Linked DNA regions of Homo sapiens: all the other regions are linked to region 3. The links come from fine-mapping of genetic effects on gene expression. A gene starts in region 3. Each other region holds a variant in brackets. All regions are shown on one strand. Distances are between the middles of the regions.

Evidence for each region. PIP is the estimated chance that this variant, and not a neighbour inherited with it, causes the effect.
Region 1: its variant is the best candidate, but not a certain one, in a credible set for the expression of SPTAN1 in whole blood (TOPMed, PIP 0.55).
Region 2: its variant is the best candidate, but not a certain one, in a credible set for the expression of SPTAN1 in whole blood (INTERVAL, PIP 0.50).

Annotation. Positions count from the first base shown.
Region 1 is chr9:128,587,981-128,596,160 of GRCh38, forward strand. It overlaps SPTAN1 (spectrin alpha, non-erythrocytic 1), which reads left to right. Exons shown (of 57, transcript NM_001130438.3): 21 at 829-963; 22 at 3,497-3,645; 23 at 5,003-5,062; 24 at 6,195-6,393. Among named protein-coding and RNA genes, the nearest start is that of SPTAN1, 39 kb to the left of the region's middle. The variant G/A (reference allele first, on the strand shown) is at 3,730.
Region 2 is chr9:128,445,259-128,453,438 of GRCh38, forward strand. It overlaps the pseudogene LOC100129352. Among named protein-coding and RNA genes, the nearest start is that of ODF2, 6.7 kb to the right of the region's middle. The variant G/A (reference allele first, on the strand shown) is at 3,664.
Region 3 is chr9:128,548,092-128,556,271 of GRCh38, forward strand. SPTAN1 (spectrin alpha, non-erythrocytic 1) reads left to right here and starts at 4,496. Exons shown (of 57, transcript NM_001130438.3): 1 at 4,496-4,605. It overlaps LOC101929270 (a long non-coding RNA gene), which reads right to left and starts at 4,322. Exons shown (of 4, transcript NR_188457.1): 1 at 4,277-4,322. RefSeq lists silencers at 4,140-4,909, 6,459-6,753 and an enhancer at 6,945-7,444.

The DNA of each region.
Region 1 (8,180 bases), 40 kb after region 3:
GATTACAGGTGTTCACCACCATGCCCAGCTAAATTTTTTTTTTTTTTTTGAGATGGAGTCTTGCTAGAGTGCAGTGGCACTATCTTGGCTCACTGCAACCTCTGCCTCCCAGGTTGAAGCAATTACCCTGCCTCAGCCTCCTGAGTAGCTGGGATTACTGGCGCCCGCCACCACGCCCAGCTAATTTTTGTATTTTTAGTAGAGATGGGGTTTCACTATGTTGGCCGGGCTGGTCTTGAATTCCTGACCTCATGATCTGCCCGCCTTGGCCTCCCAAAGTGCTGGGATTATAGGTATGAGCACTGTGCCCGGCCCTACTTTAAAATGAGATTTTTTTTTTTTTTTTTTGAGATGGAGTTTCACTCTTGTTGCCCAGGTTGAAGTGCATTGGCCTGATCTTGGCTCACCGCAACCTCCGCCTCCCAGGTTCAAGTGATTCTCCTGACTCATCCTCCCGAGTAGCTGGGATTACAGGCACGCACCACCACGCCTGTCTAGTTTTGTATTTTTAGTAGAGATGGGGTTTCTCCATGTTGGTCAGGCTGGTCTCGAACCCCCGACCTCAGGTGATCTGCCTGCCTCAGCCTCCCAAAGTGCTGAGATTACACGTATGAGCCACCGTGCCCAGACAAAATGAGATTTTTTTTTTAAAGATACCAAAAATTTAAAGTTCTTGGATCAGATTTTATTGGTAGCTTCAGTGAAGAATTCTCATGAGTGTATATTTGGTACATTTGGTACAGCTGGTGGCATTTGAATCTGCTCTGTACTTAGATGACTCAGCGCGGACGTGTTTTTACCATGTTTGCCCTTCCTTTGGATTTTTAGCAACAAGTGGCCCCCACGGATGATGAGACTGGGAAGGAGCTGGTCTTGGCTCTCTACGACTATCAGGAGAAGAGTCCCCGAGAGGTCACCATGAAGAAGGGAGATATCCTTACCTTACTCAACAGCACCAACAAGGCAAGGCACAGAGAGTGGCTGTGTGTTTGTTCCACGCTGGCACCTCCACGTATGCTCAGTTGGGTTTCTGTGGGTTGCATGTCTCCCTGAAATGAGAAGGCTTAGAATTCAAAGACATGAGTTTCCTCACCAATCCCCCACGTGACATACATTTATGCAGTACTGTGTATGACCAAGAAGTTAATCTGTCTTCTTGAATACCTGCAAGAAGCATAGATAATCACACTCAGAAGGATAGCTTATTTTCACCATTGAGTGTCTCTAGGTGGAATTTTTGTCCTGTCAAGCCAAAGTTTGCTTTCTGTATAACTTGGACCTGTTGGTTCTTTTTTTTTCTTTTTCTTTTCTTTTTTTTTTTTTTTTGAGACAGAGTCTCGCTCTGTCACCCAGGCTAGAGTGCAGTGGCACGATTTCAGCTCACTGCAAGCTCCGCCTCCTGCGTTCACCCCATTCTCCTGCCTCAGCCTCCCGAGTAGCTGGGACTACAGGCGCCCACCACTGCACCTGGCTAATTTTTTGTATTTTTAGTAGAGATGGGGTTTCACCGTGGTCTCTATCTCCTGACCTCGTGATCCACCCACCTCAGCCTCCCAAAGTGCTGGGATTACAGGCATGAGCCGCCGTGCCCGGCCTTTTTTTTTTTTTTTTTTGAGACAATGTCTTGCTCTGTCGTCCAGGTTGCAGTGCAGTGGCATGATCTCAGCTCACTACAAGCTCCACCTCCCAGGTTCACGCCATTCTCCTGCCTCAGCCTCCCGAGCAGCTGGGACTACAGGTGCCTGCCACCACGCCCGGCTAATTTTTTGTATTTTTAGTAGAGACGGGGTTTCACCGTGTTAGCCAGGATGGTCTCGATCTCCTGACCTCGTGATCCACCCGCCTCAGCCTCCCAAAGTGCTGAGATTACAGGCATGAGCCACCGCGCCTGGCCGACCTGTTGGTTCTTACTCCAGACTACAAGCTACATCTCAGCCCAGCAGATCATTGAAGACAGCTGTGACCTCACCCCACAGGCTTTGTCTTCTTTAGGCTAAATAATGACAATAATAAATCCATCCTGGTCCACCAGCCTTTCTTCCCTAACACACTCTGAATTGACAGTGGTGTTGAAGCATGCACAGATTGACTGATCCTGAAAGAGGCCTGCCTTCTGTTTTAGTTAAGGCTGGAGAAATGTCCTTGGCCATTTTTAAGAGCAAGTTTATTCCCATTCCCACACCTTATTTATCCTTGTCATGATAATTTGAGGAAACCTGTGATTCTTATCTTTCTATTGAGTCTAATTTAAACCTAAACCAACTTGTGGTCTAACTTTGGTTTATTCAAGAGCAGCATTGCCCAGTAGAACTTTCTGTGATGGTGGAAATGTAAGTGTCTGTGCTGCTTCTGCAGTAACTACTAGCTACGTGTGATAGTAAGCCCTTAAAATATGGCTAGTACAACTGGGTGTTTTATTTAATTAAATTATAACTCGATGAAGCCGGGCATGGTGGCTCACGCCTGTAGTCCCAGCACTTTGGGAGGCCGAGACAGGAGGATCGCTTGAGCCCAGGAGTTCGAGACCAACCTGGGGCACATAGCGAGACCTCATCTCTATTTATATTAAAAAAGAAAAAAAAAAAAAAGGGCCAGGCGTGGTGGTTCACGCCTATAATATCAGCGCTTTGGGAGGCTGAGGTGGGTGGATCATGTGGTCAGGAGATTGAGACCATCCTGGCCAACATGGTGAAACCCCGTCTCTACTAAAATACAAAAAAATTAGCTGTGCGTGGTGGCGTGCACCTGTAGTCCCAGCTACTTGGGAGGCTGAGGCAGGGGAATCACTTAAACCCAGGAGGCAGAGGTTGCAATGAGCCAAGATCGTGCCACTGCACTCCAGCCTGGCAACAGAGCAAGACTCTGTCTCCAATAAAAAAGAGTTCTAACTCAATGAAAGTTAAGTGGGCACATGTGACTGGTGGCTACAGTGTTAGCACAGCTCTGGAGCATCTAAGCAGAGAGAAGGCCAGCCTTGGTGGCAGGCGGCATTGCTCTTCTGCCTGTGACCCTCTGCAGGTATGGCAGGTGAGGAAGGGACTGAATTATCAGACCTTATAGAAAGTGATTTTAATATCATTTTGGACCTTTTTTTTTTATGAGACAGAGTCTCGCTCTGACGCCCAGGCTGGAGTGCAGTGGCGCAATCTCAGCTCACTGCAAGCTCTGCCTCCTGGGTTCATGCCATTCTCCTGCATCAGCCTCCCGAGTAGCTGGGGCTACAGGTGCCCACCACCATGTCCAGCTAATTTTTTTTGTATCTTTTTTAGTAGAGACGGGGTTTCACTGTGTTGGCCAGGATGGTCTCCATCTCCTGACCTCGTAATCCACCCGCCTCGGTCTCCCAAAGTGCTGGGATTATAGGTGTGAGCCACTGTGGCCGGCCGTTTTGGACCTCTTAAAACAACGCTCTCGTGTGTGTGTATACACGTGACCTCCTTGGATTCTCCCTCTCAGAGAAGGAATTTACTTTCAGTTCTCCCTCTTTTTTCCTTAGGATTGGTGGAAAGTGGAAGTGAACGATCGTCAGGGTTTTGTGCCGGCTGCGTACGTGAAGAAATTGGACCCCGCCCAGTCAGCCTCCCGGGAGAATCTCCTGGAGGAGCAAGGCAGCATAGCACTGCGGCAGGAGCAGATTGACAATCAGTAAGGATGACACTGGGGGCCGCAAGGGCTAGGCGTCCCATAGGCATACTCTGTTCCACATGGGCCGAAGCTTAGGCGTGTCCT[G/A]AGGCTCCTGGAGCCCACCTGCACGCCTCCTGCTGTCTCCACCCCACTTTGAGCCCACAGACCTCCCTGTGTGGGTCTCAGACCCCTGACTGATGACTTATATTGCTTTGTTTTTTTTCCACCAGTGTTCATGAGTTTTTCCTAACCAGAATTTTTCTAATCATTGCCATTTGCCTTTTGGTTCGAGATGCTTTTTGAAATTGGATTTTCAGATACTCTACGCCCCTACAGCTCTGTCCACTTTGAAAAGCTGCTTTCAGAGCTTCTCTGTCTGCCATAGCTTTGAGTTCTGAGAATGGAATTTTGTAATGAAATGGCTCTGTCCTCTTTCCTCTAGCTGAGCCCCCATATTGCCCTGTGTCCCTCCTTTAGGGTATTTCTGACTCCACTAGTGGAATCAGCAGTTTTGGACACTTGGGAAATATCCAGGAAATACATTCCCACTAGAGTTTGGGTAGAATAGTGAAATTTTTGGGCTCCAGTGATCCTCAGTAAGATCAGAGTTATTTGTCCACTTTATAGATTCTGTTACTATAGAGATAAGAATGGGAGGTTTTGGTTTGTGTTCTTTTTTTTTTTTTTTGAGACAGATTCTCGCTCTGTCATCCAGACTGGAGTGCAGTGGTGTGATCTTGGCTTACTGCAACCTCTGCCTCCTGGGTTCAAGTGATTCTCCTGCCTCAGCCTCCCAAGTAGCTGGGACTGCTGGCACATGCCACCATGCCCAGCTAATTTTTGTATTTTTAGTAGAGATGGGGTTTCACTGTGTTGGCCAGGCTGGTCTCAAACTCCTGACCTCGTGATCCGCCCGCCTTGGCCTCCCAGAGTGCTGGGATTACAGGCGTGAGCCACCACGCCTGGCCTTGGTTTGTATTCTTACCAGTAGTCTGGGTCATAAATATAAGAGGAAAAAGATCAAATACGTGGCTAAATTGCCTGTTAGCACTCAGTAAAATTTCTTTCTAAGGGTAGTCCAGTCTGTTCCCTGACCTTGCTCTGTGAAGTTACCAGTGTTTTCAGCACAGGAAAATCTGCCTTAAGCATGGCAGACCCGCCAGGAAAATGAAGGTGAACTAACCCTCTAATTTTCCTGCTATTTCTTTACTGTCATGTCACTCATGACTTAGACTGCTCCTTAGACCTGTTGAATAACTCCATAGTTTCCCAACATTAAGCATCCACCATCATGGCACCAGTCGGAGCTGCTGCCTTTCATCCCTGTGGATTAACCCCACTAATTCGTGCATGCTTTTGCTGTGCCCCCTCTGTGCAGGACACGCATAACTAAGGAGGCCGGCAGTGTATCTCTGCGTATGAAGCAGGTGGAAGAACTGTGAGTAGGCTGAGAGTCTTGCAGAGCACCAATGTCCACTGCTACCCTATCCATTCTCCCTCTGCCGCTTCTCTTGAAGGCCTTTGTCCATCCAGAAAGATGAGGTGGTGGGAGGAACTGCCTGTCCGTGCAGCAGCTTTGGCTCACAAGGGAAGAGGTCGCGGTGCAGCTGTGTCGGTCGATGACTGCTTATCTCATTGGTTGCTTCCATGTGCAGCTGTGTGTTCAGAGTGGTGTTGGTTCTCCCTCCTGTTGGTTTTTGTGGTGGACCAGCCACTATCAGCAGCAAACCTGAAGGCCTGTTCTATAGTTTTCCTTAGTAGGAAGGAAATCATATGCTTCTCTTAAAGTGCTCTGATTCTTGGTAACTCATTGCTTTTTTATTTTACTTTGGGACACTTAGATTTGATGATGATTCTAGTTTTTTTTAATTTTTAGTTTTTTATTGTTTGTTGTTTTCGTGTTCAAAGATAATATTTCAGCCTTTTGTATTTTAGTTCCCGAGGGTTAGAATATTCTTTGATTCTTAAGAAATCTTTCAAGTAACAGAATGGCACAGATACTCAGTACTGTGCCTGATTTTCCTTCTGAACTTGCCAAAACTTTCTGAGAGCTGAATGTATCATTTTAGAAATGTCCTACTAATATGGAGATAAAACATCCTATATGAGGATATTTTAAAGCTCAGTGTACCCTCCCCCACCTCACCCCAGCCTGGGGGCTCTTCAGAGAATTATAAAAGACAGAAAAACCCTCTGTATACATTCTGCCCAGCAAGTTCATCTCGTCTCTCCACTGTAGTTGCATGAGCCCTGTGTTACTGTGCTAAGCGCTTGGTTTCAGTCCCTTGTGGTTGTGTTGTTCTAAGTGCAGAATCGGCCTGGGGATAAGTGTGCCTGGCTGTTCTAGCCACCTGGTTGTGAACAGTACAGTGTGCGCATATCTCTCAGGCTGTGGCGTGGGTACTTGGGATCCTCGTCTTCATCTGATAACTCTGTTACTAGGGCATCATCATTACAAACTCGTAGCCTGGAATCCACATCTTGGAGACACCTCGTGGTTTGCCTTTATGTTAGCATCTACAGCTAACTGCCTTCCTTGTCCCTCTTGTCACCCTCTTGAATTCCATCAGATATCATTCTCTGCTGGAACTGGGTGAGAAGCGTAAAGGCATGTTGGAGAAGAGTTGCAAGAAGTTTATGTTGTTCCGTGAAGCGAATGAACTACAGCAATGGATCAATGAGAAGGAAGCCGCTCTGACAAGTGAGGAGGTCGGAGCAGACTTGGAGCAGGTTGAGGTGCTCCAGAAGAAGTTTGATGACTTCCAGAAGGTATGGGCAGTCTTCAGGCTCAGCTGAAAATTTGTTTAAAGATTTGAGTCTCTTGATTTTTTTTTTTTTTTTTTTTTGAGATGGATTCTCACTGTCATCCAAGCTGGAGTGCAGTGGTATGACTTCGGCTCACTGCAACCTCTGCCTCCTGGGTTCAAGTGGTTCTCCTGCCTCAGCATCCTGAGTTGCTGGGATTACAGATGTGCGTCACCACGCCCTGCTAATTTTTGTATTTTTTGGTAGAGACAGGTTTTCACCATGTTGGCCAGACTGGTCTCAAACTCCTGACCTCAGGTGATCCACCCGCCTCAGGCTCCCAAAGTACTGGGATTATAGGCATGAGCTTCTGCGCCTGGCCAGAGTCTCTTGATTTCTGACTGCAAATTACTGGAATGCAAATTACATAGATTATATTCCATCATGTATGTAGCTTTTTTTTTTTTTTTTTTTCAATTTTTTTTTTTTTCCTTTTGAGACAGAGTCTCTCTTTTGTCGCCCAGGCTGGAGTGCAATGGTGCGATCTCGGCTCACTGCAACTCCTCCTCCCAGGTTCAAGCAGTTCTGTCTCAGCCTCCCGAGTAGCTCACCACCACGCCTGGCTAGTTTTTGTATTTTTAGTAGAGATGAGGTTTCACCATATTGGTCAGGCTGGTCTCAAACTGCTGACCTCAGGTGATCCGCCTGCCTCAGCCTCCCAAAGTACTGGGATAACAGGCGTAAGCCACCGTGCCCGGCCTCAGTTTTTTTTTTGTTCAAGACAGAGTCTCACTCTATCACCCAGGCTAGAGTACAGTGGCTCGATCTCAGCTCACTGCAACTTCTGCCTCCCAGGCTCAAGTGATTCTCATGCCTCAGCCACCCGAGTAGCTGGGATTACAGGTACGCACGACCACATCTGGCAAATTTTTGTATTTTTAGTACAACCGGGATTTTGCCATGTTGGCCAGCCTGGTCTTGAACTCCTGGCCTCAAGTGATCTGCCCACCTCAGCTTCCCAAGGTGCTGGGATTACAGGCATGAGCTACCATGCCTGGCCTGTGTAGCTATTTTTAAAAGACTTTAATTGAAACCTTTTTGGACAAATTTAGTTTTAAGGAAAGATATGCTATGTTCTCTACATGTTGTTATAAGAACTTTTCTAAGCCTAAACTACAATAGATGTGAAAGTACTCTTTTTTTTTTAATTGGGGTAAATTCACAAAGCTAGCCATTTTAAACTGTACAATTCAGTGGTATTTAGTACATTCACAGTGTTGTGCAACCACCACCTCTAGTTCCGAAACATTTGTGTCACTTCAGAAGAAAACCACATATCCGTCAAGCATTCATTTGCCATTCTCCCTAACCCCAGTGGCCCACGCAGCCACTCATCTGCTGCTTGCCTCCAGATTTACCTATTCTGGACATTTATATAAATGGAATCACGTTATGTCACTTTTTGTGACTGGCTTCTTTTGTTTAGGTTTTCTTTCTTTTATTTATTTATTTTTTGAGACAAGGTGTTCTGTTGCCCAGGCTGGAGTGCAGTGGCCCAGTCTCGGCTTACTGCAGCCTCCGCTTCCTGGGCTCAAGTGATCCTCCTGCCTCAGCCTCCTGAGTAGCTGGGATTATAGGTATGCACCACTATGCTCAGCTAATTTTTGTATTTTTTGTAGAGACAAGGTTTTGCCATGTTGCCCAGTCTGGTCTCAAACTCCTGAGCTCAGGCCGTCTGCCCAGCTTGCCCTCCCAAAGTGCTGGGATTACAGGTGTGAGCCACCGCACCCGGCCCATAATGTTTTCCAGGT
Region 2 (8,180 bases), 100 kb before region 3:
CAGGACATCAAGCCAGCTCTGCTGTGTCCCGCTACAGTCTGGATGTATGTCTCCCAGCCAGTTCGCCTGGGTCCCTGGATTTGCTGGTAGTCTACTTGCTGCTATGAATCCCAAGTTACTACAAGGGCCGGTTGGGCAGATGCTTCCCCCAGCACCAGGCTTCTGTGCCTTCTTTAGTGCTCCACCCCTGCTGCACCACCTCCACAGCAGCACCCTCCTGGCCCAGGACTTCACCTGCAAAACCTAAGATCTCAGGCCCCAATGTTTATACCAGACGCAACTCACTTTCATCCACAGCACTGTCGACTCTTGCATCAGAGACAGCAACAGAATAGAAATCAGCATCAGAGTCTCAATGGTGCAGGAGATAGAGGAAGTCAATGGAACAGTCATCAAGATCATCTCTGAAAGGATCCATATGCCAATCTCATGTTGCAGTGGGAAAAGGATTGGGTCCCTAAATTCCAGATGATGCAACTGCAAAGCACTGATCCCTGGATTATTTTTATTACCAGAATTACTTGGAAAAACAGTCAGCTGCTGAAGAAATATAAGGTGATGGCCCGAAAAAGGAGCGCACCAAGCTCATCACCCCTCAGGTGGCTAAACTGGAGCGCGCCTATAATCCAGTGCAATTTGCGGGCTCTTTGGGAAAGCTGACTGTTTCTAGTGTAAATAATCAGCAAAAAATGATTGATGCTGTTGTGACATCTTGGAGTGAGGATGATGAAACAAAAGTTTGAGACAAGAGGAGAAAAACCCTTGTCATGGCCGAGCGCAGTGGCTCAAATCTGTAATCTCAGCACTTTGGGAGGCCAAGGCAGGCAGATCATGAGGTCAAGAGATTGAGACCATCCTGGCTAACACGGTGAAACCCCGTCTCTACTAAAAATACAAAAATTAGCCGGACGTGGTGGCGGGTGCCTGTAGTCTCAGCTAGTTAGGAGGCTGAGGCAGGAGAACCGCTTGAACCTGGGAGGTGGAGGTTGCAGTGAGCTGAGATCATGCCACTGCACTCCAGGCCTGGCGACAGAGGGAGACTCCATCTCAAACAAACAAACAAACAAAACCCTTATCATAATTGAGAAAACCTACAGATTACTCCTTGATGTGGAGGACTATGAAATAAGTTATTGCCTAAAGCTAGAATGGATGACGGAAAGCACAAAATTTGTAGCATGTATGACAACTTAAGGGGGAAATTGCCTGGACAAGAGAGGCCTAGTGATGACCACTTTGTACAGATCATGTATATCCAAAAAGAGAAGAGAATGGTTGCCTGTATTCTTCCTCTGCTCTCCACAGAGCAAGCAGCTGACATTCTCCTGATAACAGCCAGGAACCTCCCTTTCTTTATCAAGAAGGATGCACAAGGGCCAGGCGCCCTGGCTCACTCTTGAAATGCCAGCACTTTGGGAGGCCAAGGCGGGCAGATCACTTGAGGTCAGAAGTTCAAGACCAGCCTGGCCAACATGGTGAAACCCCATCTCCACTAAAAATACAAAAATTAGCCAGACATGGTGGCACGCACATGTAATCCCAGCTACTTGGGAGGCTGAGACAGGAGAATCACTTGAACCTGGGAGGTGGAGGTTGCAGTGAGTTGAGATTGCGCCAATGCACTCCAGCCTGGGTGACAGAGCGAGACTCCATCTCAAACTAACTAAATAAATAAGTTAAAAATAGCCGAGTGTGGTGGTGTGCACCTGCAGTCCCAGCTACTTGGGAGGCTGAGGTGGGAGGATCATTTTAACCCAGGAGTTCAAGGCTGCAATGGGCTATGATCACAGCACTGCACTCCAGCCTAGGTGACAGAACGAGACACTGTAGCTAAATAAATACATGTGAAATGTGAGCTTGCTTCTATGAAAATAACTTTTTATGGCAGGTTTCATGTTTGAAACAGCTACACACAATTTCTGATAACTTTTTATCAGGAGAAATAGGCTTTGTAATGGTAGTCTCTTAAGAAATTCTTGATGGCTACTAATAGTGAGAACCTTTATTCACAGCTGCAGGTGATATAAAATTTGGACCTTTTTAGGCCAGGCGTGGTGGCTCATGCCTATAATCCCAGCACCTTGGGAGGCCAAGGTGGGCGGATCACCTGAGGTCGGGAGTTCGAGACCAGTCTGACCAACATGGAGAAACCCTGTCTCTACTAAAAATACAAAATTAGCTGAGCGTGGTGGCGCATGCCTGTAATACCAGCCACTTGGGAGGCTGAGGCAGGAGAATCGCTTGAACCTGGGAGGTGGTGGTTGCGGTGAGCTGAGATCGCACGCGCCATTGCACTCCAGCCTAGGCAACAAGAGCGAAACTCTGTCTCAAAAAGAAAAAAAAATTGGACTTTTTTTTTTTTCTTTTTGAGACAGTAACATTCTATCGCCCAGGCAGGAGTGCAGTGGCTTGATCACAGCTCACTGTAGCTTCCACCTCCCCAGTCTCAGGTGATCTTCCCACCTCAGCCTCCCAAGTAGCTGGGACCACAGGCACACACTGTGACGGCTGGGTTTTTTATTTTATTTTTTTGTAGAGACGAAGTCTCATTATGCTGCCTAGACTGGTCTTGAACTCCTGGGCTCAAGTGATCTGCCCTCCTTGGCTCTCAAAGTGCTAAGATTATAGGTGTGTGCCACCACATCCAGCCTGAAATGATTTTTTAATCTCTTTCCTTTCCTTTTTTTTTCTTTTTTGAGACAGAATCTCTCTCTGTCACCCAGGCTGGAGTGCAGTGGTGCCATCTAGGCTTACTGCAACTTCTGCCTCCTGGATTCAAGAGATTCTCCTGCCTCAGCCTCCTGAGTAGCTGGGATTACAGGCATGTGCCACCATGCTCAGCTAATTTTTGTATTTTTTTTAGTAGAGATGGAGGTTTCACCATGTTGGCCAGGCTGGTCTTGAACTCCTGAACTCAAGTGATCTGCCCTCCTTGACCTCCCAAAGTGCTGGGATTACAGGCCTGAGCCACTGTGCCCAGCCTCTTTTCTTTCTTAAGCTGTGTCCTGGCTATGTTAGTGTTTATTTTATTATAATCCTTAAACTAAACTTATACATTCTGTTATGGGTTGAATTGCATCCTCCCTGAATTCATGTGTTGAAGTTCTTACCCCCAGTACCTCAGAATGTGACCTTATTTTGTTTTGTTTTGTTTTTTTGAGACAAAGTCTAGCTCTATTGCCCAGGCTGGAGTGCAGTGGCACGATCTCAGCTCACTGCAACCTCCACCTCCTGGTTCAAGCAATTCTCCTGCCTCAGCCTCCTCGAGTAGCTGGGACTACAGGTTCATGCCACCATGCCTGGCTAATTTTTGTATTTTTAGTAGAGACGGGGTTTCGCCATATTGGCCAGGCTGGTCTTGAACTCCTGACCTCATGATCTGCCCGCCTCCACCTCCCAAAGTGCTGGGATTACAGGCATGAGCCACTGCACCCAGCTGCTCATTTGGATATAGGGTCATCGTAAATGTAATCCGTTAAGATGGGGCCCTGCTGAAGTAGAGTGGGTCCCTAATCCAGTATATCTGATGTCCTTACAAAAAGGGGAAATTTGGACACAAGCACACACACAGAACACCAGATGGAGGTTGGAGTTATGCTGCCAAGGAACCACCAGAAGTTAGAACAAGGTTGGGAATACATCCTTCCCTGGAACCTTCAGAAG[G/A]AGCACAGCCCTGCAGACACCTTGATCTTGAACTCCAGCCTCCAGAACTGCCAGACAATACATTTCCTTTTTTTTTTTTTTTCTTTCTGAGAGAGAGTCTTGCTCTGTCACCCAGGCTGGAGTACAGTGATGCCATTTCAGCTCATTGTAACCTCCGCCTCCCAGGTTCTAGCAATTCGCCTATCTACCTTGGGTGAAAAAGCCAGACCCTGTCTCAAACAAAACAAAACAAAACAAAAATCTCTTAGAATTGAGAGACTTTCAGTTTTCTACATGCAGGGATAGTTTGTCTAGCAGAGGGCATATTCGTTGCTTGTAAGACTGGCAAAATCCCTCCTGTTGTTTATAACACAGTAAACACTGGGTGAGTTTATGCATTCTCAGAAACTGTTGGTTGGGGCTCCAACACAGAAAGACAGCTGTACCTGTGCCATGTTAAATCAGAGAAAAAGGTTGTTGAATAGTAAGTGTAATATGAGTTGATTTAAGTGAAAAATATTTTCATTTGCCTTGAAAAGTCTGTAAGGTACACATTAAAAGGTCAACAGCAGTAAATAGGCCAGCGCAGTGGCTCATGTCTGTAATCCTAGCACTTTGGGAGACTGAAGCAGGAGGATCACATGAGCTCAGGAGTTCGTGACCAGCCTGGGCAACATAGCAAGACCCCATCTCTAATTAATAAATAATAATAACAATAAAACAGCAGTTAACATATATTAAAAAAAAAAAAAAAAAAAGAAACTGTTGGTTGGATATAAACTGGCCTAACCCTTTTGACAAGATTTCCTGTCTTTTTTTTTGTTTGAAACAGAGTGTCACTCTTTTGCCTAGGCTAGAGTGCAGTGGTGATCTTGGATCACTGCAACCTCTACCTCCTGCATTCAAGCAATTCTCATGCTTCAGCCTCCCCAGTAGCTGAGATCACAGGTGTGTGCCACCACACCCAGCTAATTTTTGTATTTCTAGGAGAGACAGAGTTTCACCATGTTGGCCAGGCTGGTCTGAAACTTCTGGCCTCAAGTGATCCTCCCACCTAGGCCTCCCAAAGTATTAGGATTACAGGCGTGAGTCACCATGCCTGGCTCCTACAGTTTATGTTTTAGCATACATAGGATCATATGGTATGTCTTGGGGATCTTCTCCTATTATTACTTATGGATGTACCTAATGCGTTTAAACTGGTATACAGATAACATAGATGTACTATGTTAATTGATTCCTCTGTTGATGCATATTTAGGTTGCTCCCAAATTTTTAACATTACTTTTAGACCCAAAAGTCTAAAAGTTTTAGAAGTTTTTTTTTTTTTTTTTTTTTTTGAGATGAGGTCTCACTCTGTTACCCAGGCTGGAGCACAGTGGCACGATCACTACTCACTGCAGCCTCAACCTCCCCAGGCTCAGGTGATCCTTCTAACTCAGCCTCCCAAATAGCTGGGACTACAGGTTAGTGTCACCACGTCTAGCTAAGTTTTGTATTTTTTTTTTTTTGAGACAGAGTCTTGCTCTGTTGCCCAGGCTGAAGTGCAGTGGCGCAATCTCGGCTTGCTGCAAGCTCTGCCTCCCAGGTTCATACCATTCTCTTGCCTCAGCCTCCCGAGTAGCTGGGACTACAGGTGCCCACCACCACAACCAGCTAATTTTTTTGTATTTTTAGTAGAGACGGTGTTTCACCGTGTTAGCCAGGATGGTCTCGATCTCCTGACTTCGTGATCTGCCCGCCTCAGCCTCCCAAAGTGCTGAGATTACAGGCGTGAGCCACCGGACCCAGCTTTAAGTTTTGTATTTTTTGTAGAGACACAATGTTGCCCAGGCTGGTCTTGAACTCCTGGGCTCAAGCCCAGCTCAGTCTCCCAAAGTGCTAGGATTACAGGCATGAGCCACACTGTGCCTGGCTCCCCAAAAGAAGTCTTTAAAGTTTATTTGATCCTTGATTGGACTTCTAAAGTGAAACTCTCAGAGCATCTATTTTGTGCTGGATTCTGTGGGACATGAAGAAGTGGCCCTTGCCTTAAGAGAGCACCCAGTAGGAGGTGGCACAAGATTTCCGTACACACACGAGTGCTTACAGCAGGGATATTGGGACCCATACCCAGGAGGGAGCCATCAGTGCATCCTGAGAAGTGGGAGCCACCGCAGGCCTCATGGAGGAGGGAGCATCTGAACTTGGCCTGGAGGGTTCCCACAGTTGCAGGGGCTGGAGATCCTGGCCCAGGCCCAGCCCCTGCGCTCCTGAAGTGGACACTCTAGAGACGAGTGGAGGATGAACACTGTTTCTGGTTTGGGTGGTTTGTGTGTTTGGGGCAAGGGAATTTCTCAGGTTGCCCTTATTTTCTGAAATGCACATACTCCTGGATGTTTCTGTGTAAACCATCAGCTCCATTTTGGCCAGAGCAGGAGTTCCTCTCAACTCTCCATGGGGACTGGGGAGGTGGAGGATGCAGAGATCAGACAGACTTATAGCCTCTGAGCTTCGGGGTGGCCTGTGGGTCTGGAGAATACTTCTGTGGTTCTCCAAATGTGATCCTTGGCCAGTAGCACCAGCATCACCTGGACATTTATTAGAAATGCAAATTTTTGGCCAAGCGCAGTGGCTCACTCTTATAATCCCTGGGCTTTGGGAGGCCGAGGCGGGTGGATCATCTGAGGTCAGGAGTTCGAAACCAGCCTGGCCAATACGATGAAACCTTGTCTCTTCTAAAAATACAAAAAATTAGCCAGGCGTTGTGGCAGGCGCCTGTAATCCCAGCTATTCAGGAGGCTGAGGCAGGAGAATCGATTGAACCCAGAGGTGCGGAGGTTGCAGTGAGCCGAGATCAATGCCACTGCCCTCCAGCCTGGGCAACAAGCGTGAAACTCTGTCTCAAAAACAACAACAACAACAAAGAAATGCAAATTATCCGGCCCCATCTCAAACCTATCGAATCAGGAACTTTTAGAGAATTGGTTCCTGTAATCTGTGTTTTAACAAGCCTGTGACTCTGGTTTGAGAACCACTGATAGCGATATTTACTCCAGGTGACCCAAGGAAGCGGGGCCCAGCCTGGGCTCCCCCGACCCCTGTCCACCATCCCCGACTGCTCCGTGCTCACCTCTAAGAGGGTGAAGCTGTTCCTGACTGATGGCTCGCAGGAGGATTGGGAGCTGGGATGCTGCTTGGCTAACGTCCTCTCCTGCAGGGAGGGGGTGAGGTCTACAAGGGGTACCCAGGGCATTCTCTGGAATGCTACCTCCCTTCCCGTGAATACTACCTCCCTCCCACTTAATGTACTAGGTGGCATTATTAATAGTATTATTAATCCATACATTCATTCAACATTTTTTTTGTTGATTGTCTACCGTTTACAGGTTGGTTTGGCTACTGGAGATACAGAAATGACTGTGATGTCACCCTAGTCCACAAGGAATCCATGGTCGAGTGGGGACACTGGGGTGGCCAGCAGGCAGTGACAGAGCAATCTCATACAAGTTTATATTACAACCAGGTGCAGTGGCTTGTCCTTGTAATCCCAGCTACTTGGGAGACTGATGCACCTCCTCGGGAGGTGGGAGAATCACTTGAGACCAGGAGTTAGAGACCAGCCTGGGAAACATAGTGAGACGGTCTCAAAAAAAAAAAAAAAAAATTAGTCGGGCTTGGTGACCCGCACCAGCAGTCTTAGCTACTCAAGAGGCTGAGGAGGGAGGATCGTTGGAGCTCAGGAGCTTGAGGTTGCAGTGAGCTGTAATCATGCCACTGCACTCTAGCCTGGGTATATTACATATAATATGTATGTATAAAAATGTGTATATTTATTTATGTTTATTTATTTATGTTTATTTTTTGAGATAGAGTCTCACTATTTCACCCAGGCTTGAGTACAGTGGCACAATCACGGCTCACTGCAGTCTTGAACTCCCAGGCTCAAGTGACCCTCCCACCTCAGCCTCCTAAGTAGCTGGAACTACAGGCATGTGCCACCATGCCCGGCTAACTTTTAAAAATGTTTTGTAGAGATGGTGTCCCCTATGTCGCCCAGGCTGGTTTGAAACTCCAGGTTTCAAGCAATCCTCCCACCTCAGCCTCCAAAAGTGCTGAGATTACAGGCATGAGCCACCATGCCCGGTGATTTTTTTTTTTTTTTTTTTTTTTGAGATGGAGTCTCACTGTGTCGTCCAGACTGGAGTGCAGTGGCGGGATCCCTGCTCACTGCAACCTCTGCCTTCCGGGTTAGCGCAGTTCTCCTGTCTCAGCCTCCCGAGTAGCTGGGATTACAGGTGCCCGCCACCATGCCTGGCTAATTTTTTTGTATTTTTAGTAGAGATGGGGTTTCGCCCATTGGCCAGGCTGGTCTGGAACTCCTGACCTCAAGTCATCTGCCTGCCTCGGCCTCCCAAAGTGCTGGGATTACAGACGTGAGACACCGTGCCCAGCCCCCCGCCTTTTTTTTTTTTAAGAGATTGGGCCTCCCCATGTTGCTCAGGCTGCTCTCAAACTCCTGAGCTCAGGTAATCCTCCCACCTCAGTCTCCCAAAGTG
Region 3 (8,180 bases):
TCAGTAACACTTCAAATATTTTCTCAAGTCAATAAGTATTATATCATGAATATAGTCTTGAATTTATGAATCGTAATTAATCATTTTTCACTTGGTGACTAGGTTATGCCTAATATATTTTTTTAAATTATTAACATTCTTTTTTTTTTTTTTTTTTTTTTTGAGACAAGGTCTCACTCTATTGCCTGAGCTGGAATGCAGTAGCACAGTCATGGCTCACTGCAGCCTTGACCTCCCGCGCTTAGGTGATCCTCCCACAGCCTCCTGAGTAGCTGGGACTACAGGCGCAAGCCACCACATCTGGCTAATTTTTGCATTTTTTTGTAGAGATGGGGTTTTGCCATGGTGCCCGGGCTGGTCTTAAACTCCTGGGCTCAAGTGATCTGCCTGCCTCAGCCTCCTAAAGTGCTGGGATTGCAGGTGTGAGCCACCACGCCCGTCCTGAATGAAAATGCATCTTGTCCTGCTTAAGGCAGATTTCTAGATGTAACTAACATTGCTGGGTCAAATGGCATGCAAATTTTATATTTTGATCCACATTGCCAACTGCTCTTCCAGAAAGGTTCTACTTACATATACTCAAAATGGGTAAGATTTTCAGGCAGAAAGGAGGCATGAGTGTTGGGAAAGGATGTTCTAATTGGAGGAAAAAATTGTTCACAAAAGCATGGAGTTGGAGAAATAACATGTTTTGGAAAGAGGCTAACCTCAGACCAGTAGAGCAGAACTGTAGGGAATGATGCTGTGAAAAGGTAAATTGGAACAAGATTGTGGAGGCTGCAAATTTCGGCCTATTCCGTAGGCAATGGGAAACAACTGAAACTTGTTGAGAAGGTTTGACGTGATTTGTGAAACTAACTGTAGTAGTGGGTTCAAGGTAAGCAGGAGGGACACGGACTGACCAGGCCTAGCAGGCAGCCCTGCAAGGGAACAGATGTGAAATGACCGGAGCCAGATTACAAGGTCGGATTAGGGGAGGGGAGGGAGGAGTTTACATCTCTGCTGTCACCTGGAGTCTTAAAACCCTGGTAAGGCCACACTCCCAGAGCCTATCAGGCTGCTTCTCTAATGTGGTGCTTGATTTTAGAAGCAGGGGCTTGTGTTTTGCTTTGTCTTTTGATTGTAGTAAAATATATAGAACATAAAAAGTTTAACCTTTTTTTTTTTTTTGAGACGGAGTCTCAATCTGTCGCCCAGTCTGGAGTGCAATGGCGCGATCTTGGCTCACTGCAACCTCCGCCTCCCGGGTTCAAGCGACTCTCCTGCCTCAGCCTCCCGAGTAGCTGGGATTACAGGTGTGCACCACCACACCCGATTAATTTTTGTATTTTTAGTAGAGGCAGGGTTTCACCATGTTGGCCAGGATGGTCTCAAGCTCCTGACCGCAAGTGATCCGCCCGCCTCAGCCTCCCAAAGTGCTGGGATTACAGGCGTGAGCCACCAAGCCCTGCCTAACCATTTGTAAGTGTACAGTTCTGTGGCATTATGTACAGTCACAGTGTTGTGCAACCATCACCACCATCCTCTCCAGAACTCTCTTTCACCATCCCAGACGGAAACTTTCCCACTAAACAATAATAACCCATTCCTCCCTCCCCTCAGACCCTGGTAACAACAGTTTTTTCTGTCTCTATGAATCTGACAATTTTAGGGATCTCATATAAGTGGAATGGTCATACAGTATTCATCCTTATGTGTCTGGCGTATTTCACTTAGCATAAAGCCTTCAAGGTTCATCCAGGCACTGTGATTTGAAGAGCTGTGTTATTTCTTGCCAGCTCTGACACTGCAGAATGTCATATGGGAAGTGCAGTCCACTTGCCAGCATGACTCTTCCCAATCAGCTCCCTTCTAGGGAAGAAAAATAGTGGAAGTGCTTGCCTGTTATCTTTGCAGGGGGTGAGACAGGGTGTGGAGGGGAGGGGAGGGGAAGGGGTCTCTCCCAGGGAGAGTGGGCAAGTGACTTTCCCTGGCTGGAACATATGGACACATCACCACAATTAGTGTGTTTTCCAACAGTTGACCTTTTCAACAACCTGAAAAAGTATTGGGACTATCTAGACGCTTAAGCTTAGGGTGCCTATCAAACCTTCTGAGGATTGCTGAAACTAGAAAAAGGAGTTGAGAATTCAGTCCAACCCTCTGCTTTTTAGGAGGCCAGGAGAGGTGTGACTGAGAACATGGAGTTGATTGGTTACAAAGTCGTTACACTGTCCTGTGCTTTTTCTGTTGTTGTTTTTTCCCCCAGCTTTCCACACCTACTAGGGTGTTAGGCATATGGTGAAACTGGTGGGAGGTGAGGTAGGCAGACAACAGAACAGTGAAGAATGGCTGGTTTCAAGTGCCAAGTGCAGAGAAGGCAGGGTGAGTGGGTGGGAGGTGGAGAGCGCTGGGGATACTGTTTCTTGGTCATGTCTCAGATCACACAAAGAATCAAATAAGATTTTAGTTTCTCTATCAATACAGAGCTCTCTCTTAGGTCTCCATTTTGCATCCAGCAAAAGCAGCAGAACCCCCAGTTCACTATGGGGCCAGGGTGATTTAATAGAAAAACCCTCCCTTTTGAACAGCTCCTGCCCCTCAGTCCCAAGGTGCTTTCTTTGCTGGAGCAGAAGGTCTTGGAAATTTTAGGGAGCTACAATTGTGTTAGCCATTTTGTACCCAGAGCTGAATATCTGATCAAACATTTTACTGCAACCTGCTGGAGAAGAGGCCACGGATACCATCAGCTGTTCTCAGAAATGCACACTCCAGGGAGGAGTTGCTCAGCGCTGTTTTCTCTACATAGAAGATTGCAGGAAATGCCTCTCAGCTCCTACGTTTCTCCTACACAGATTCTCTAAAGCAGCTTCTGGGGTGTGGTCACTGCTTTTCTCTCCACTCCAATGGAGTGAGTGGGTAGGGAAATTTTTCCTCAGTATCATGGCTACAGCCAGGACAGCTTAGAAACCGTATTGCAGGTCCCAGGCACGGGGAAAGAAGCCAAACTGCAGAGGGCCAGGAAGCTCAGGGCCAGGTCTGGGCCCAGATTCTGGTGCAGTGTCCAATGACTTTATATTTATTTAAAGAGGAGAGCTGCTTGGTAACCAGGAGGCTGAAGCCTTCCTAAGCTGCAGAGCTCCCCGTCTGCCTGACTGCACAGGAATGATCTGGGTGTTACTCCCAGTGGCTGCGGCCCAGCTGTCACCGGAATGGGGATAGGGAAAGGGCTTCCTAATCCAGGGCTTCTGGCTACAGAGTTTAGAGCCAGGACCTTAAACTGCTAGGACTTTAAGTATCAGAAATTCTGAGAATCTTATTTTTCTCTTTCTGCACCCCAGCAGCCACCCGCATCAAAATGCCTCCCTTTCCTATTTGAAGGCAATACACATACGGTTGCAAAGGGAAGGTTCTGACTGCTGAGATGTAAATCCTAGCTCTTCCAATTGGTAGCTGCCTGACCTGGGCCAAGAGACTTAGCCTACATGAGCATTATGTAAGAGTGCCCATTTGTAAAATGGGAAAACATCTCATAAAATTATTGCAAAGATTAAGAAATGAAAAGGTAACACGAAATACTTAGCATAGTGCCTAGTACACAAGGCAAGTTCGATTAATTGTGCCAGAAAGAACCTTAATGTCTTGTTTATGAAATAGGATGAATGTAGCCTATTCCACTGGCGACCTGTGAGAAAGCTTTTGTTGCAGGAATGTAAGAAATTATTATTTTGCCGCTGCCGTTTCCTCCCCCATAATCTCCAAGAACATAAGAAATTAACTCTCCAAATCCCAGAATGACAGCTTTATGCCCCAAATTAGTCGACTTAATTTTTTTTCTGATTCGGATTTGGCCTTTTCCTCTCACCACCTCCTCAAACCCGGGGCCCCAAATCATCCGCGTCTTCTTGACCCCAGCCCCCACCGAATTAGGCTGACTTGGGACCCCAGCGCCAGCCTCCTCCTCGGGAAAGTGAGCAGGAAGAGACGCACTCGGGTGATCTCACCCTTTGGGACTGGGCGTTTTTCCGGCCGGGGCGCGCAGCATCCCCAGCCAGACTGCAGCGATACCCCCGCCCCGCCCTTCTCCGCAGTCCTGGAAGAGCTCCCAGGGCGGAGTGGTGCGATGCAGACGACTGTCCGCAGGGCGGGCGGTGGCGGGGCGCAAGCTGCGGGGAGGGAGGTGAGGCGGGAGCGTCTCTACCGCCAGGGCGTAGGCAGTGACCTCACTGCACCATCACCCCTCACCCCTTGCGCGCGCCCCATTTCCCCATCCTCCCGCGGCCCGCCCCTCGCTCACCTCTTCCCCCGCATTGTCGCTTCGGCTCCTTCCGGGATCGCTCGGCCCTTTCCGCCGGGCGGTCGGGCGGCGAGCCGGCGGGAGCACCGCCCCCTTTGCTCCGCCGGCGCGCTCCCCCACCCCTCGCGCAGCGCCGGGGCGCTTCCCCCGGCGCTCGCGCCCGCCCGCCGCGGGAGCGCGCGTAGCCGCTTATAAAAGAGGCGGGGCGCGCGCGTCGCCGCCACTACCCGCTGCGGAGTGAACGGTGTGGAGCGGAGGCCGCGGAGGCTCCTCGGTCCTTCAGCACCCCTCGGCCCGACGCACCCACGCCCCTCACCCCCCGAGAGCCGGTGAGAGGGGCAGCCGGGGAGCTCCGGGAGGGAGCGGGGCCCCGGGCAGCCGACCCCCGGGTGGGAGCTGGGCAGCTCTTCAGGCGGGGCGGGGCCGGCGCGCGGACAGGTGAGCCGGGCGGGCCGCGGGGCTGCCTCCATTCGGCTGAGTGGGGGAAGCCGCTGCCGCTGCTTTTGTGGCGCGTGGGCTGCGGAGGAGCAGCCGGGCCGAGGCTCGGCGCCGCCGCTGGAATGTCACTGACGGGGGGAGGGGGCGCGAGGCCGCCGGGTCCCTCCCAACCACCCCCAAGCCTGGCTGCGGCGCGGCCCTGCCCTGCCCCATCCGGCTGCGGCAGGTGGGTGGGGGCTCCCTCGTCGGGATCTTCGCCAGCCGCCTCCCTGCAGAACGCTCCCCGCACCGCCCCCGGTCCCTTCCCTCGGCCGGGAGCGACTTCTGCAGCTCGTTCTTCCGAATCGCACCAGCAATGCCGGCCAGCCGTAGAGGGAGGAAGAGCCCGGGGAGCCCGAGCATAGCGTAAACGGCTCTCTGACCTTAATTTCATCCTGCATGGCGAATCTCTGCCGTCTCTCTGAACGCAGAAGGGTCTGAGACTGGCCGTCTCCTTTTCTTTCCTTGTAATAAACATTTTTCTTTCTTCCTAGTTGTGATTTGCTTGTAAATAATAGGTAAATGCAGTGCTTGCATGGTATGTGGCTCAAATCAAATAACTTAATAGCTTAGCGTTCTTGTTTGTGTGTGTGTTTCCTGGGACTGGGTCTTTCGAGTCGAGATACAGTGTCAAAAATTCTACCATACCACTGTTGAATGATAGAACAGTCTTTTGTTTGAAAGCTGTCCCTGAGAATTTGATTAGACGCTTCCCCTAGAACATCGCTTTCAAAAGTCTCTGATGTACTAGAGTAAAATATATTTTAAATAAGCGCCTTGTTAAAAGTTGAATATGTTTTAAATGAAAAGCCTAAATAGCTCAGAAAGCTGGGTTGAGATGATGCTTGAACTGTTCCAACATCTAATCAGATCTCTTTTATATAATAGATCCTAAAATATTTAAGCCCTTTGTTCTGTCTTCATCATGTTATTTTAGAAAAACTTACCATCATGGCTGTTCGGGAAGAACAGGAGAGAGGCCATATGAAGTATTTTCATAATGTGTTGAGAAATTGCGTCGTCATAGCAATTGGCCTTAAGTAAAACAGAATGTATCAAAGATGGAAGGGTGGGGGTGTCTTGGAGCCAGGAAACAGAAAATCTTGGAAATAGCAGGAGGAACACTCAGCTATATGAAGCCATTGAGTCAAGGTTCCGACTCCTTAACTAGTCGTTTATTTTCCCTTTCATTGCAGCTAACTAATGTCTTAGATTTTGAAAGGTCAAATTGAATGTGCTGCGGAGGAAAAAAAAAGTGCTGCAGTAAAGGCCTCTGTGCAGGAAATTAACAATAAGCCTTTTTTAGTAACTGGGCCAATAATTACTCAAAGGGACCCTCAAAGTGTGTTAACTGTTATCCAGGGACCTTGATGGAGAGACTGGAAAGGAGGATTTTTGCTTCATCCTGGACAAGTGTGAAGCAGTTCTTATGGCAAACCATCAGCCTAGTAACTGATTCTCTGATATGCTTTGGTCTTGGCAGTGTGTTTTGTAGTCATCTAATAATTGGAGAAATCTGGTATGTCACAGGCTGCAGTGTAAGCCTGTCAAGCAATATGATGAAGAGGTGCACATGGGGAGAGCTGTTTTAAGTATGTCTTTTGGTTCCCTGGGTTAGAATTTTTTCTGCTTTTTCTTACCTGCCTTCATCCAAAGTTGGGGGTCAACTGCAGATCCTGAAAAGTGGATCTCAGGAATAGTCCCCCATGTCCTGTCACTGCTGAATCTACACTAAGAATGGACAAGTGTGTTCAAGGCTGGCCTGCCTTTGTAATCAGTCCTCCGTGGGCTATGCAGGGATCCCACTAGTTACGCACTCATCTGTTGCAGCATATCAGCTGCGGCTGTACTGTAGAAGAATGCAACGCCCTAGTGGCAAATGCTGACTCCAGGAATGCGGAGGAGGAGGAGGACTGCATAGCTCATCACTGGGGGCCACTTGACTGGAGCAGCTGTGCTGCAAACCATCACCTCTCTTCCACCTTTTTTGCATATTCCTCTTGTACCAATTTTGAACAGGAAATAGTATTTTGTAAAGTAAGTGTACTGGCAAACTAGGCCCAAGTCAGATCTTTGTGGCTTGAGTTCTACTTTGTGGCAATTTCATGAAGTCATGCTCTTTTATTGCTGAATGGAAGGGGATTTAGGAATCATCTTGTCCTGGGATCCTCAGGAGGAAGGCATGTTTAGTTTGAAAAAGTATATTCGGTATTATTACTTTAACAAGTGGGGAAATTGAGGCCCCAAGGAGAATGAGACTTGACCAGGGCAGCATATCTAGAAAGTAACTGCCAAGACCTGGGAACCTTGGTTCTCCTTCCACATTTTAAATCCCTTGTGGGATTTAGACGCTATACAGAATGTCAGAGAGAAGACACTGAAAAAATATCTGAAATTGGATTTTTAATCTGTATTCATATTTTTTAAATAATCTGTTTTCTTCATGATTTTGTTCCGTTTGCCCTTAGAAGCTTGTTATCTTGCTCTTCCCCCTCCCTCTTTAGACTCCACATTCCTCCATCATGTTGTCATCGTTTCGTAAACGCAGAGTCCAGGTATTTGACGAGCATGCAGAAAACGGGTTGCCTTTTTGGTTTTGCCTGGCTTGCAGTGAAGGCATATTCGTGTCAAAGAGGTTGAATGATCCAAAGAAAGGGGGAAAAAAACCCTGCCTGCATGACGTTTCTGTTAAACAAATTGGTTAGGATTTGTTTGGGGTTTTTTGGTGTTAAATTATCAGAAGTATTAGTAAATTTACTTGAAAATTTGCAAAGCCTTTTTTTTTTTTTTTTTTTTTTTAACCTCCCTCTCTTTCTCTTTAAGGCATGAATATATTAATTTCTTACCACCATTCTGGTGTTTGCATGTAGTGTTTGCTGACTTTTTATTGGTGGCTACTTGGTTTTTAAGAACCAAGGGACTAAACATATTATCCTAGATATTTGGAGAAAATAATCTGAAAATACATAGTAAAAATTGTGTTTTTAAAATTTGACAAATATTGTAAACTTGGGTTTGTTTCCTGTTGCATTGACTTCTTCCACCACAATTTCTATAATAGAGCTTACCTTTTCATGTTTAAAAAATAGCTCTCGGGCTGGGTGCGGTGGCTCATGCCTGTAATCCCAGCGCTTTGGGAGGCTAAGGTGGGTGGATCACTTGGTCAGGAGTTCAAGACCAGCCTGGCCAACATAGTGAAACCCCATCTCTACTAAAAATACAAAAAATTAGCCGGGTGTTGTGGTGGGCCCCTGTAATCCCAGCTACTTGGGAAGCTGAGGCAGGAGAATCGCTTTAACCGAGGAGTTGGAGGTTGCAATGAGCCGAGATTGCACCATTGCACTCCAGCCCAGGTGACAGTGCGAGACTCTGTCTCAAAAAAAAAAATTAAAAAACAGCTCTCTTTATATGTTTTCTTTGTGTACAG